2 separate regions of the Homo sapiens genome follow, and region 1 is linked to region 2. Evidence: fine-mapped expression QTL. A gene starts in region 2. The other region holds a variant in brackets. All regions are shown on one strand. Distances are between the middles of the regions.

Evidence for each region. PIP is the estimated chance that this variant, and not a neighbour inherited with it, causes the effect.
Region 1: its variant is the best candidate, but not a certain one, in a credible set for the expression of C1D in whole blood (INTERVAL, PIP 0.69).

The regions. Positions count from the first base shown.
Region 1 is chr2:68,082,288-68,087,818 of GRCh38, reverse strand. No RefSeq gene overlaps it. Among named protein-coding and RNA genes, the nearest start is that of C1D, 22 kb to the right of the region's middle. The variant C/T (reference allele first, on the strand shown) is at 2,843.
Region 2 is chr2:68,060,355-68,065,354 of GRCh38, reverse strand. C1D (C1D nuclear receptor corepressor) reads left to right here and starts at 2,351. Exons shown (of 5, transcript NM_173177.3): 1 at 2,351-2,397. RefSeq lists enhancers at 2,000-2,500, 2,253-2,662, 1,584-2,783.

The DNA.
Region 1 (5,531 bases), 22 kb before region 2:
ATAAGTTTGCTTTGACAGTGGTAAAATGCAATTGCCAGAGGTTGAGCCAGCTAATCAATGTAATCTCTGTGCTCCTTTAAACACAAGGAATTGTTCTTTTCATAGTTCAGCCCTGCTCCGATGACTTCGCTATTCCCCTTCGAATGAATGTGTAGGCTAAATACATGCAGCTTAACTTTGTGTGATACACACTATTAGATAAGCACAGAGGGTCAGGATCTCATTAAGATGGGGTGGGTTGGAGAAGCCATTTCCACTTGACATCATAATAGCATTAGACTGGAAAAGTTATTCAGATCCATGCAGAGGACACATGGACTTCATTCAAACCCAGTAAGTCTGGCTGTTTGAAACAGATTCCTTTAAGGAGTCTATCCTGTTTGTTTATTTGGTATGTAGTACTACATATCAAACCCTAGAAAAGGAAAAAAAAAACATTGGAAGTATTTAGTAAAGTGGAGCCAAAAGAGAAAGAGCAGAAAACAAAAGGTGCACCATGAAAAGAAAGGTAAAGACAAGGACAAAAAGTAGGAGAAAGTAAAAAAATTTCTGTTTAAATTTGTTAATTTATATTTTTAACCTACTTCAGGCCTGAAGTTCTGCTATAGCCCAGAATATTTATTCCAAAGATAAATGAGTAAGATTGACTTATTTATATAGTCTCTCTCTGTCTTTTTTTTTTTTTTTTTTTATGACGGGGTCTGGCTCTGTTGCCCGGGCTGGAGTGCAGTGGCAGATCTCAGCTCATTGCAACCTCTGGACCTCCTGGGCTCAAGTGATCCTCCCACCTCAGCCTCCCCAGTAGCTGGGACTACAGGACTACAGGCATGAGCTACCACGCCTGGCTAAATTTTTTTTTTTTTTTGTAGAGACAAAAGTTTTACCATGTTGCCCAGGCTGGTCTTGAACTGAGTTCAAGCAATTTGCATGCCTCAGCCTCCTAAAATGCTGAGATTACAGGTGTAAGCCACTGCACTCGGCCTATAGTCTCATTTTAAAGACATATTTTCTAGTAGCTTTTTCAACATTCGCTCAATGTGTCATTTTCATTACGATTGTTCATACTATGTGAAACCCAAATAGTAAGTTGATCTTCAAGCCTTAATAACTGATTTCAAATAATTTTCCAAATAGGCAATGATTTTTCTTACTGAAAACATTTCCTCCATTATTTTCAGTAGTGATCAATATCAGGGAGAGAACTTATCTACATCCTGAAACCAAAAAGAACTTAGGTCTGTTAAATTCTGATGATCAGCATAGATGGCCACAGTTTATTTAAATACCATAGATCTTTGGGTCTCAAAATGTTGTCCTGAACCAGGTGTCACTGTCACCTGGGAACTTGTCAGAAGTGAAAATTCTCAGCAACCTGCCCCACACCTGATGAATCAGAAACTCTGGGGTGACAGGGCAGCAAGCTGTGTTGCGGCAAGCCCTCCGTGTCCTGGTGCATGCTCGAGTTTGAGAACCACTGCATTTGTGTATTCTCAGTGGTGGTTTTATTTTCTAACCACGTTGTTTCACTGCATGGATAAGGTATACAAACCAGGTCAGCTGTATTCTAGGAAGTTCATCTATTCTGCAAAGGCTGAATACACCTTGCCCAATGCTGCCTCTGATGGGCAGTGGAAACCTGAAACCTGCAGAATATTTCTGGCAAACAGGTCATATTTTCCATCATTATTCAGTACTTGCTTACTAAGGATGAATTTCCTTAACATAAATTTGAACAAATTTATTCCTTGAGATGGTAGATCCACTTAAAAGGGTGTAAATGACAGTGCCAACAACAATTAAAAGTACTTGCTTCACCTAACTAAAACATGTGGTTTCTTGAAGCTGAAGCAGTCATTTTTAATGAGCTGAGTCTCTTCTTGGAATCACAGTATGATACAGAATAAAAATGTAAAAGGGTCTTTATTATGTCCTCACTCTTGTATGACAGAGTGTAATGAAGACACTTTCAAATAAAGGCTTTGAGAGTGTGCCATTCATAAACCCTCTCTGAAAGAGCTTCTAAAGGATGTACTTTATGAAGGACACTGAATCCAGAAGGAAGAAAAGGGATAAAAGAAAGCGTAACAACAGCAATAACAACAACAACAAATGTGTACTACCACAGCTACAGCATTTTTGGAGAGACAACTGTCTTTCCCTTCTTAAATTTCTCTCCACAATCCCAATGGTGGAAGTTTAAATTTCAGACACAGAACAATGTGCTACCATTGATTGAGCGTCTACTCTGTACCAGGCTGTAAAGGATTGTGATATCTATGTGAACATATTGTGTGAATCCCCAAATAGTGACTTGATCTTATCTCATTCATGCTTCATAATCAACCTATGGGGTAGGTATTGTTTTATACATTTAGAAGCTGAAGCTGAGAGAAGTTAAGGAACTGGCCCAAGATCACACAGCCAGGAGGCAGCAGGGTCAGGGTTTGACCCAGGCCTACCTGATGATATTGCTCAGGTGTTTAACTGTCAGTCTAGCAATGTCGAAGATAACTAAGACTCCAAATGCTAAGTAGCTTTTTGAAATAAGCTGTAGAGCTCTTCTATTTTTACTTATTTATTTTTTTTGAGACAGGGTCTTGCTCTGTCTCCCAGGCTACAGTGCAGTGGTTCAGTCTCGGCTCACTGTAGCCTCAACCTCCCAAGCTCAAGTGATCCTTCTGCCTTAGCCTCCCAAGTAGCTGGGACTACAGGTGCCCACCACCACACTGGGCTAATTTTTAATTTTTATTTTTTGCAGAGACTATGTTTTGCTATGTAGTCCAAGCTGGTCTTGATCTCCTGAGCTCAAGCAATTTGCCCGGCTCAGCCTCCCAAAGTGCTG[C/T]GATTACGGGCGTGAGCCACTGTACCCAGCCATGTAGAGCTATTCTTGACCTCATATTGCTTTATCAAAAAGAAAAGAAAAGAAAAGAAAAGAAAAGTACCCTTAAAATCTGATGACCTACAAATGGCCAATAACACATGAAAATATTCTCAGCATCATTACTTGTCATGGAAATGCAAATTAAAGCCAAAATGAGATATCAGTATACACTCAATACAATGGCTAAAATCTACAAACTGACCATGCCAAGTGTTGGTGAGGGTGTGGTTGAAGGTTCTGATTTCTGTCAGATACCCACACTACCAAGGTCAGTGGCAACAAGAACTGACACAGGTGTCAGTCTCTCCTCATGGTCTTCAACTGATGTGTGAAGTCCAGTCTATTCCTAACCTCCCCCACTGTACATCCATCTTCCCTCCTGATGGCCTGCCCTGTGAATTTCAAACTCCAGGACAAGATATAGAGACAACAACCTTAGAAAATAGCAAAACTTTTAACCAGCTTCTAACAATTACATGCTGCCAAACTCTTGTAACGAATCCCTAATTCTAGATATATCTTCTGGTGGTCCTGTTTTTCTGGTTGAATCCCGACTTGATACAGAATTTTCATTGGAGCCAAGTCTAACCCATGGCCTGCTTTTGTATGGCACTTGAGTTAAGAATTATTTTTACAGTTTTAAAGTGTTGTAAAATAAAGAAGGACATGTAACTGACACCATACGTGGCCCACAAAGCCTAACATGTTTATTTACTCTTTGGCCTTTCACAGGAAAAGTTTGTTGACCCTTGATGTAGGAAAGGTAGTCGTATAAAATGGTATGGCTACTTTAGAAAACAGTTTGACAGTTTCTTATAAAAATAAACATACACTTACCATGTGGCCCAGCTATTCTACTCTCAGGTATTTACCAAAGAGAAAGGAAAATATATGTTCATACAAAGACTTGTACCTGAATGTTCATAGCTTTTTGACTCATTTATTCACTCAAAAAAAAATCATGCTGTTCACACTAAGAAATAGTCTTGGAAAAGAAAGAAAACAAACAAAAAAACCCATCATTCTGTGTGAAAGAAGACAGACAAAATAGTGCCTATTGTGTAAATCTATTTACGTGAAGTTCTAGAACTGGCAGTATCAATCTACAGTAATAGAAGCGTAGTGGTTGGCAGCCATAGCTGTAGAGGGGATTGGCTGGAAAACGCAAAAGTGAACTTTCTGGGAAATGTTTTATAGCTTGATTGGGATGGTCTACATGTTTGTCAAAACTCATTGAATTGCACAGTTGAAATGTATGCAATTTATTGTATGTAAATTAATCTTGAAAAAACTATTTTAAAAAAATCTGATGACCTAAAGCACTTTCCTCCTTGGTTCCTCATGATATATTCTCAGCTTTCAATACATTTGGTGTGTATACACACCGCACTGGTTTTTAGCCTAAACTTCCTCTTTCAGTCACCTGTGTAGTCTATAACAGCAGTCCCCAACCTTTTTGGCACCAGGGACTGGTTACATGGAAGACAATTTTTCCATGGACTGGGTTGGTGGGGGATGGTTTTGGGATGATTCAAGTGCATTGCATTTATTGTGTACTTTATTTCTATCATTATTACATTGTAATATATAATAAAATAATTACACAACTCACCATAACGTAGAATCAGTGAGAGCCCTGAGATTGTTTTCCTGTAACTAGATGGTCCCATCTGCAGGTGATGGGAGACATTGACAGATCATCAGGCATTAGATTCCCATAAGGAGCATACAACCTAGATCCCTTGCATGCACAGTTCACAATAGGGTCCATGCTCCTATAAGAATCTAATGGTGCTGCTGATCTGACAGGAGGTGGAGTTCAGGTGGTAATGAAAGTGGTGAGGAGCAGCTGTAAATACAGAAGAAGCTTCACTTACTCACCTGCTGCTCACCTCCTGCTGTGCAGTTTAGTTCCTAACAGGCCACGGACTAGTTTCAGGAGTTGGGGACCCCTGGCTTAAGCAACAGAAATGTGTGGTCTCACAGTTCTGGAGGCCCAAAATCTAATATTAAGGTGTCAGCAGGATTGGTTCTTTCTGAGGGCTGAGAGAGAATCTGTTCATGCCTTTCTCATAACTTGTGGTTTGCTGGCAATCTTTGGTGTTCTTTCACTTGTAGAATCATCACCCCAATCTCTGCCTTCATGTTCAATGGCATTCTCCCCATGTTCATGTCTGTCTCTGTGTCCAAATTTGCTCTTTTAATAAGAATACCAGTCATATTGGGTTAGAGTCTACCCTAATGACTTTATTTGACTTGATTACCTCTGTGAAGACCCTATTTCCAAATAAGGTCACATGCACAAGTACTGGATGTTAAGACTTCAACATCTTTTGTGGGGACACAATTCTAGGAGTTGTTTACAAATTAATGTAGGGATATGGGGTTTGGACTTATAAATGTGGTGATCTCAACAAGTCCCACTGTCTTTCAAGCCACAAGTCTTTGGAATTCTCTCCTGTTTTTCCTGCCTACTATGTTATTTTGATCTAGGTCAAGGTTTATTATGTAAGCATAATTAATAAATTGATTAGGGTTTAAGGCAAATGTTTAGATAAAGACAAACGTTATGTACTCAATGTTCAGCTATACTGTTCATTCATTCATTGGTTTACAATTAAGGACATAAAGTAAATACCACCTATTTAGA
Region 2 (5,000 bases):
TTGGGGAAGTTCTCCTGGATGATATCCTGAAGAGTGTTTTCCAACTTGGTTCCATTCTCCCAGTCACTTTCAGGTACACAATTCAGATGCAGATTTGGTCTTTTCACAAAGTCTCATATTTCTTGGAGGCTTTGTTCATTTCTTTTTACTCTTTTTTCTCTAAACTTCTCTTCTTGCTTCATTTCATTCATTTGATCTTCAATCACTGATACTCTTTCTTCCACTTGATCAAATCGGCTACTGAAGCTTGTGCATGCGTCACGTTCTTCTCGTGCCACGATTTTCAGTTCCATCAGTCATTTAAGGACTTCTCTACACTGTTTATTCTAGTTAGCCATTCGTCTAATCTTTTTTCAAGGTTTTTAGCTTCTTTGCAATGGGTTCAAACATCCTCCTTTAGCTCGGAGAAGTTTGTTATTACCAGTCGTCTGAAGCTTTCTTCTCTCAATTTGTCAAAGTCATTCTCTGTCCAGGTTTGTTCCATTGCTGGTGAGGAGCTGCATTCCTTTGGAGGAGAAGAGGCGCTCTGATTTTTAGAATTTTCGGCTTTTCTGCTCTGATTTATCCCCATCTTTGTGGTTTTATCTACCTTTGGTCTTTGATGATGGTGACGTACAGATGGGTTTTTGGTGTGGATGTCTTTTCTTTTTGTTAGTTTTCCTTCTAACAGTCAGGACCCTCAGCTGCAGGTCTGTTGGAGTTTGCTGAAGGTCCACTCTAGACCCTGTTTGCCTGGGTGTCACCATCGGAGGCTGCAGAACAGCAAATATTGCAGAATGGCAAATATTGCTGCCTGATCCTTCCTCTGGAAGCTTCATCTCAGAGGGGCACCCAGCTGTATGAGGTGTCAGTTGGCCCCTGCTGGGAGGTGTCTCCCAGTTAGGCTACTCGGGGGTCAGGGACCCACTTGAGGAGACAGTCTGTCCGTTCTCAGATCTCAAACTCCGTGCTGGGAGAAGCACTACTCTCTTCAAAGCTGTCAGACGGACATTTAAGTCTGCAGAACTTTCTGCTGCCTTTTGTTCAGCTATGCCTTGCCCCCAGAGGTGGGGTCTACAGAGGCAGGCAGGCCTCCTTGAGCTGCGATGGGCTCCACCCAGTTCAAGCTTCCTGGCCACTTTGTTTATCTACTTAAGCCTCAGCAATGGCAGACGCCCCTCCCCCAGCCTCGCTGCTGCCTTGCAGTTTGATCTCAGACTGCTGTGGTAGCAGTGAGCCAGGCTCCGTGGGCGTGGGACCCTCTGAGCCAGTCACGGGATATAATCTTCTGGTGTGCCGTTTGCTAAGACCGTTGGAAAAGCACAGTATTAGGATGGGAGTGTCCCAATTTTCCAGGTACCGTCTATCATGGCTTCCCTTTGCTAAGAAAGGGAATTCCCTGATCCCTTGTGCTTCCCGGGTGAGGTCATGCCTCGCCCTGCTCTGTGGGCTGCACCCAGTGTCTGAGAAGCCCCAGTGAGATGAACCCGGTACCTCAGTTGGAAATGCAGAAATCACCCATCTTCTGCGTTGCTCATGCTGGGAGCTGTAGACTGGAGCTGTTCCTATTCGGCCACTTTGGAACCTCCCCCAAAACTTTAAATATTACATACATGGTGCTTGTTCAAAATGCTTTTACATGCATTTAATATACGGACAACTGTTTCATGCATAACTTTTTATCAAATTACAGCCGTGGAATGACAAGTTACAAATGTTAAGACAATGCTCAATCGCTTATACTACACTTTCAATGAACAGTATGTACAGTTTCTGTTAATGCCTTTATTTTCTATTATGTTTGTTCTGATTGCATACATTGAAATGCAATTTTACATTTATTTGAAACTAATAAAAAATTTGGGCTTGTATTTTGCACATATTTTCCCCATTTTTCTACTAATTCATTTTTACTGTATTTTATAGAAGTACCTTTTACTGACAGATTGGAAAAATAAAGAACCCATTCTTCCCCACGGATAATCTAATAAAGAACCTGTTCTTCCCCACGGATAATCTGGGAAGCTGCTCTAAGAGGCTCATCTAGAGGCAGACAATAAAAGGGTAGAAAGAATGAGGGCCCTGAAAAAAGCTTCTGGGAAAGTAAAAACCCGAACAAAGTTTCGATAACTAAGATTTTTTTCCTGGTTAAATACACTCAACCTGTATTTGGGGTGAGTGTTAGCCGGGTACAAAGGTAGACAAAAGTTCCGAGTGCCGCCGCAATCGTCTCCCACAACATGGGTCTGAGCTACTCAAAATGAGATTTGCCTTTGGAGAAGAGTTAAGGAGCAGGGGGCGTGGCGAGCAGCGTGAGATCATCGGGAAGCGCCGCTCGTGGCGGGGGCAGAGCCGGCGCGTCATTGTCGTCATCGTTGCCCGACCGCTTTCCGGGAGACTGGAGTCGAAGGCCGTGAGGTATTTTTCTAAGGTGTAGTTTCAGTTTTTCTCCTGCTCCTGTTTAACTCCGCTTTTCCTCTCCTGGGATTCCCCTGTCATCCTCTGGGCAGACTGAGAAAATCGGAGTTTGGCTGCGTAGCCTTCCAGGAATGCAGTCTCTCACAGCTCTTCGTTGGGGCAGCATTGTTGGCAGGTCCCCCACTTCCGCTTGTTTTGGGGCTGCTTGCAGGCTTTGGCTTACCCCGGCCCCTCATTTCTCTCTTTTGCTCCGGTCTCTCTCTTTTTCTTCGTTTGTTAACCACCCCCTTCTCAAATCTTGGAAGACGAAGAAATTAAAAACAAAAATCAAAAAACATTGAAGTCTTCACAATTTTCAGCTGTTTTCAATCTTGCTTAGGGAGAGAGGCTAAAGTGGAACGTCTAGGGGAGTAACTTTACTGTGTTAGCTCCGTTTATCATTCACATTCACAGACTGCCTGCTGCTGCAGTATTAGCTCATCTGAGATAGTGGGCTAATTTCGACCTTTAGCTGAAATCTGTAGTGGGTAATCCAAGAGAGCAGTTTTTCTTGATGACCCGGATAAGTTCAGTGTAACTCAAACTTGTTTCAAAATAGCTTTAATGTCCTCAATGTTTGCTGACTACAGTTCAGTTTTGGCTTGATAAAGATGTATTTGTCGCAATGAGATGTTTGCTATCCACTTATTAACCTATTAGGACTGTCTGATGGTGGACTGAACCAAGACTTAACCGTGATTTTTTAAAAAATTAAATTTAAAAATTTTGTGGGTACATAGGTGTATATATTTATGGGGTACACGAGATGTTTTGATACAGGCATGCAATATGTAAGAATCACATGGAAAATGGGGTATCCATCCCTTCAGGCACTTATCCTTTGTGTTACAAACAATCCAGTTATACTTTTAGTTATTTAACTCTGTATTTTTGATTCAAAAACAACAGATTAGCCCTATTGAAGTACAGAGAAATGTTTGTGTTTGGTGGAAATGATAGAACTCATTGTTTTGTTGAAAGATAGTGACAAGTGTGAATAACGGTTTTTCAAAATAAAATTCTCAGTCAAAAGATACTACAGCTGCCTTCAGTTAGCTGTGTTGTATGTATCACAGTTCAAAAGTAATGTAATTTTTTTCTTAACTGCTTTTACCTTTTCAAATGGCTCTTCATATGTATTATCTCAGCTACTGTTTCCAAAGTTGACCCTTCAAGCATGGCTCTAAATAGTTCACATTGGATTAGAGTATTTGGTAATTTTCACTTTTAGTAAAATACTATCTAATGTATTGAGTGCTAACTGAGCCAGGCCCCGTTCTAATGGCTTTTATCTAGTTTATTTAATCTGTGCAACAACACTATATACTCTTATTTCAGAAATAAGATAATTGTAATAATCAACTTCCATATGTTTTGGAAGGTAATTTTGCTGCTTGATTGCTGTAATTTTGGAAATGCTTTGAATTAAACTTTGAATAGAAGTGAATTTAATTTAATGTAATTGTTCATCTCAATCTTGAGCAATATCCTCGTAATTTATATACTCTCCTATTAGACTTTGGGATAAATTTATTTTTAGATGTTAATATATTTTTTAGAAAAGGAAGAAGTCTATATTTACTCAGGAATTGTACTGTGGGACTGAAGGAGAGTTACAGACAACACTAACATGGAGTCACTGTTTGCCCAAGACAGCAATATTTATTGAGAACTTGTGTGTACATTTCATTGTTATTTTCTCCTAAGATAATGCAGTGCGAAAAAGTCATTACAGTAATTCATTACAGTAATAGAATTCTGGTGCAACAACAGCAAATGGCTCTCAAATTCCAAAAAACAATCATGTTGGATTTGTTCTTTGGCTTAGTTCATAACTGTGTATAATTATTTGGTGTAGAGATGGGAAGAGCCCTGGAATGTACATTATCGTATGTTTGTTTGGATCCATGTGGTGACTTTCTAGTATCTGTAAGCTCAAACTGTAATCTGATATTAAGAGTTTCCAAAATTACGTCTTAGGTTACTTTGATTGGTTTTAGTTAGTAAACAAATAGTTGCTAACTAACTAATACATGACAAGACATTATGTTAGTGATGTGGAGTTCAAAATGTGCCTCGACATGAATCTTCCCTTGAGCAATAGCCCAGTGAGTAAATAACCAATGGAAAGGTAGGAGGAGAGGAGTGACATGATCTGACTTAGGTTTGTTTTATTTTATTTTATTTTACTTTATTGTCTTTTGTTTTCTTTTGTTTCCTTTCCTGCCCTGCTCTGCCCTTGCCCGCCCTGCCCCACCCCATCTCGCCCCTCTTTTCTTTTGGAGTCTCACTCTGTTGCTCAGGCTGGAGTGCAGTGGCACAATCTCGGCTCACTGCAACCTCCGCCTCCTGGGTTCCAACGATTCTCCTGCCTCAGCCTCCGGAGTAGCTGGGATTACAGGCACCCGTCGCCATGCCCAGCTAATTTTTTGTGTTTTTAGTAGAGTTAGGGTTTCACCATGTTGGCCAGGCTGGTCTCGAACCCCTGACCTCAGGTGATCCGCCTGTCTCAGCCTTCTAAAGTGCTGGGATTACAGGCGTCAGTCACTGCGCCCAGCCTGACT